2 separate regions of the Homo sapiens genome follow, and region 2 is linked to region 1. The links come from fine-mapping of genetic effects on gene expression. Tissue or cell type: blood mononuclear cells. Region 1 holds a variant in brackets; the other region holds the start of a gene. All regions are shown on one strand. Distances are from middle to middle.

Region 1 (2,500 bases):
TCCCTGTATTATTGTTTTTTGTTTTTGTTTTTGAGACAGAGTCTCACTGTGTTGCCCAGGCTGGAGTGCAGTGGCGTGATCTCAGCTCACTGCAACCTCCGCCTTCCAGGTTCAAGGGATTCTCCTGCCTCAGCCTCCCAAATAGCTGGGATTACAGGTGCATGCCACTACGCCTGGCTAATTTTTGTGTTTTTAGTAGAGATGGGGTTTCATTATGTCGACCAGGCTGGTCTTGAACTCCTGACCTCAAGTGATTTGCCTGCCTTGGCCTCCCAAACTGCTAGGATTACAGGAATGAGCCACTATACCTGGCCTGTTTCTTTTCTCTTTTTTTTTTTTTTTAACTTAAATACATTTATTTAGAAAGAGATTATTAGAACTCTACCAAAATTAAAAGATCTGCCTTCTTTGCCAAAAAGAGACAAAGACCATCAAAACAACTTCTAGAGGAAGGCCTTGAGCTGGAGGCCTGCTCTTTCTCTTTGTTAAAAAGGTAGATTAATAAGGGCCAGGAGAAGGTAAGTACCTAACAGTGACAAATTGAGACACTCTGTGTCAGGTAACTGACACTGGGCCCTGGCACCCTGCCTGGAACCAGCATGTGTCTGTGTATCTGTGGGGTGTGGGGGTCTCTGTGAGTCCCCCACCCATTAGGAACCATTGCACTGAAGGCTTTGTTATAGAGAGATTTGGGTTTTGTTGTAATTAGATCAGGCCCATCAGCTTTTTTTGACCTCCTTGTCCCTACTGAGGTTGCAGGACATAGAGCAACAACTCCCCCATGGGGAGTGTGACCAAGTCAAGGGGACCCACTGACTCATCCGCTTTCTTCCAGATAAACCGAGACTACTCCTTCCTTGACTACATCCTGGGAGGCTGCCAGCTCATGTTCACCGTAAGGCTCTCCCCGCTGGCTCCCTCTGCACCCCCATCCCAGTGAGGGTCCTCCCTGAAGACTTGGGCCACTAGTGCAGCCAGAGGGACTTAGGGTAGACTTCAGGAAGGACTTCCCTGGGGCAAAGAGTGTGTGCGGCCTAGTGAGGAGGGCATAAGTGGGCTGTCTGGTCCTGCTGGGTGTGCCTGAGTTGGGGCTTAACTACAGGTCAGAGCACAGCTGCACAGCTTTCAGTCTGGTGGCTACACTCCTTCTGCGGGTGGAGGAAAACAAATTCCTCCTCACTGGCCACAAGGCCTTCAGCGATCCCTGCCTCCTTCATCTGCAGCCTCCTTCCTCCTTGCTCACTGGGCTCTAACCACACTCTTCCTCTGTTTGCCCAACATGCCAAGCTTTGCTTCATGTTAGAACTTTGCATTTGCTGTTCCTTCTGCATTTGTTGT[TC/T]CCTCTGCCTGAAACACTTCCCCAGAACCTTTGCATGGCTGCCTACCTGCCATTTTTCAGGCCTGAGGAGGTAACGGAGGTCACCTTCCAGGGAGCCCTCCCTCCCTCAATGCCTTGCTGCTCCTCTGTCATATCTTCCTATTTTCTTTCTTTTCTTTTCTTTTCTTTTCTTTTTTTTTTTTGAGACAGCGTCTCATTCTGTCACGTGGTCTAGAGTGCAGTGGCACGATCTCAGATCACTGCAGCCTCCACCTTCAGCTCTCAGTTGATCCTCCCACCTCAGCTTCCTGAGTAGCTGGGATTACAGGTGCATGCCATCATGCCCAGCTAATTTTTGCATTTTCTGTAGAGATGGGGTTTTGCTATGTTGCCCAGGCTGGTCTCAAACTCCTGGGCTCAAGCGATCTGCCCACCTTGGCCTCTCAAAGTGCTAGGATTACAGGCATGAGTCACTGGGCCTGGCCCTCACTATTTTCCTATTTTCTGGGCACTTGCCGCCCCGAGATTCATATGCATTTGTCGCTTCTCCCTGATCGTCGCACCCACTGGAATGTGAGTGCTTTTAAGTGTGGGCACTTTGTTTATTTTGCTTCCACTCCAACCCCAGCATATCACACAGTAACTGGCACATAGCAGGTGCTCCATCATTTCTCGTTGGAAGAATGAACTGCCACCTTGCCTGTGGCCTGGAGTCTTTGCCCCACAGACTCTGTGCCACTCATCCTGGCTTTGCTTCCTCACCCCAAGGGAGCCTCAGGCCCAGAAGGGAGGAAGCTGCTGGGGTGCCACGCTCTGCCCACCTCCCCATGTTGTCTCACCGTTCCCCATCACCACCCCTAGATCCTAATGGGAAATGGAGGGCATCACAGGATGCCATGGAGTCAGAGGATTGGCCTTGCTGACTTCTGACCCTGCTGCCCACCACTGCCCCCTCCCCTGCACAGAGGCCAGGCCCTCCTGTTCCTCCTGCACGAGTTTGTTCATTCAGCGAACTCACACTGACTGCCTCCTTTGTGCCGGGCTCTAGGCTGTGTCCCTGCAGCGGTCCCTCAAGGACTAAGACATGCTGCCCCTGACCTGGGGGAGTGACCCTCTAGCCATGTGAGGATTTGGATGGGTGGCCCCTTCTCTCCTACCCCACAGCAACTGAGTTCCCATGTA
Region 2 (2,500 bases), 31 kb before region 1:
AAGAAAGGTGAAGAGAGCTTGGAGAAAGGAAAGATGGATGGGTGACAGGCAGGCAGAGAACAAAGCTCAGAGCCCCGGGGGCTGTTTAGTCTCGGCCCCTGTAAGGCTGCAAAGTGCCAGTGACTCAGACGTGGAGGGAGGCTCACAGGCTGCAGCGCGCGAGGCTCCCACATTAACCCTCACCTGCCTGGAATCGAAAAGCCACAATGGAAGCACTCGGCATTAACCCTCAGCTGCCCAGTCCTTGAGCCCCAGGGCCAAGGGCTGTGGACATGGCCTTGAGATCCCCGGGAAAGCCCCGCCCCCCAGAATCTGGTTACGTGAGGCTCAGCCTTCTGATGCCCGGTGGTGAACTTGCCCAGAGAGCACCTAAATACCGCGGAGTGGCCAAAGGCTTGAGCGCCCAGCGACAGACAAGTGTCCTAAGAATTGGTGCCTCTTCTAGGGAAAAGGAGGCCTGGGCTCCAAGGCCTTAAAGACTCGCCTAATTTTCCGCACGGATGAGTAGACCCAGGCCCAGTTCGGATCCGTCTTTATCTTATCGTCTGTGTCAGAGAAATATGTCATATTTCCAATCTCTGGCGGCAAGAAAATGCCGAGCTCTTTTGCTATTGAAAAAAAAAAGGGAAGAAAACACTGCGGCCCTAATCCTGCCCAATACAACCCAGAACCCAGCCTTGGGTGTTGCCCCGAGGGCGCAGCGCCGCTCCCATCGGCGCTGGGGGTCCAAGCGGCCCTGGGGCCCCGCAGGCCCGGGCTGAGGCCACCCCTCTGTTCCCGCGTCGGTGGCCCTGAGCGCACGGCGCTCGGAACTCGGAGGTGCCAGAGGCTCGGGCAAAGCAGGCCTGGGGAGGGCGCGAAGCCGCGTTGTTCCGATCCTCAGCCACCTGAGTCCCAGCCTGGAACCTTCGGACCCTCGCGTTCGGCCCGAACGTTCGGGCCCCCTCGGTGCCAGGCGCCCCGAGTGCCGCGGCGCGCCGGGCGCGGGCTGGGAGCGGCGGACTGCGGGCGGGACAGCGCCCCCGCTCCTCCCGTGGGAGAGCGCGCGCCCCTCCAGGAAGCTCCCGCCTCGCCTCCCACTTCCCTCCCCACTCCCCTCCTCGGCCGGAGGGAGGAGCCCGAGCCGCCGCCGCCGCCGCCGCCCGCCCGCCCGGCCCGGGAGGAGGACCGGACCCCGAGCGGCTGGGAGCGCACGCGAGCGGGCCGTGGCCGCGCGGGCAGCGCCCTGAGCCTGTCCCGCGCCCGCGGGCCCGGCCGAGCAGGAGCAGCTCCCGGGGATGCCCGGGCGGCTCGGAGCGCGGGCAGCGGCAGCCGTGCGGTGAGGGCGGTGGCGCCCGCGGGACCTGCGGTGAGTGGGGCCCGGGCAGGCGGGGCAGCTTGGCGTGAGTGCCCAACTTCGGCCTTGGGGCTGGGCTCTTTGATCCAGCTGCGGGTCCGAAGGAACCCGGGTTCCGCCTCGGGGGGCTGCGGCGCTCTAGCCCCCGCCGCCAGCGCGAACCCGGACTCCGGCGCTTCGGTGACTCAGCTCCGACCCGGCCACGCGGGGGCGCCCCGCCGGCTCCCGGACTGCGGGGAAGGGCGGGCGGGGTCCCTGGGGAGGGGGGCGCCCTCGGGGGTCCGAGCCCAGCTGCTTTGGGGACCCTTCCACCCGCCCCGAGGGGCTTGGAGGGCGTACGGGAGGTGGAGACCCGCCGCTGCCGCAGCTGCTGAAGGCGTGAGGTCGCCCTGGCTCTCGGCGGGCGCTGGCTCCTCTCCGCTCCCCTCTGCCCTCCTCCCACCCCTCAACACCCACCCCCTGCCCCAGGCAACTGCCGGAGGGCCGGCTCCCAGCCCCGGTACTGGGAGCGCAGAGGGGGAGTGGAGCTGGGCAGCTTCCCAGAAGTCGGAGTGTGTTTGCAAACTAGTTTTTGCGAAAAAGCTGTCTGGCACCTGTGTGTTTAAAGGGGGTGTGGGGGTGGGCATGGAGAGAGCGGGCGAACAAGGCCCTCTCTTATTCCCCGTTTCTCACAGCGATGCTCCTCTGAAAATAGAGGGGTCTTACACCCTCTTCCCTGCTCTTCCCACCCCATCCCCCAGCCTCGCTCCACGTCCCCCCGAGTTCAAGAAGCTCTCCTATGGGGAAGGGGCTGCTTCAAAGGGGGCTGTGATTTGCCCAAGGTCACAGATGCTGCTGGCTCTGGTAGCTAATAGGGTGTTCATCTTGCATCTGAATCCCCTGCCCCATATGTACTGGGGGAAGGGACAAGGGGTCTGGAAGAATGATCTTCCAGACAAAACGCCCTTTTTTTTGTCTGCCTTAGTTTTTTGCTCCCTTAGAGGTGTGTGCTGTCATCAAAGGTTGGGGGGCTTTTTCTGCCCCTTGGGCATCCACAGCTTCACGGACTGCAGGGAGCCCATGGTTTTCAGGAAACAGGCGGTGTGCGCAGATTGTAATCCCTGGCAGCTGCAGCCTGCCCTGATGGGGAGGCCTGGGAGACCTGGGTCTGAACCCCACCTATGA

The links. PIP is the estimated chance that this variant, and not a neighbour inherited with it, causes the effect.
Region 2: CPNE2 starts here. The variant in region 1 is fine-mapped to the expression of CPNE2 in blood mononuclear cells (TOPMed, PIP 0.99). The same link has a PIP of 0.9 or more in whole blood.

What each region holds. Positions count from the first base shown.
Region 1 is chr16:57,122,579-57,125,078 of GRCh38, forward strand. CPNE2 (copine 2) reads left to right here. Exons shown (of 16, transcript NM_152727.6): 10 at 836-895. Among named protein-coding and RNA genes, the nearest start is that of CPNE2, 31 kb to the left of the region's middle. The variant TC/T (reference allele first, on the strand shown) is at 1,339.
Region 2 is chr16:57,091,443-57,093,942 of GRCh38, forward strand. It overlaps CPNE2 (copine 2), which reads left to right and starts at 1,141. Exons shown (of 16, transcript NM_152727.6): 1 at 1,141-1,348. RefSeq lists silencers at 663-732, 753-1,002, 1,113-1,162, 1,223-1,632.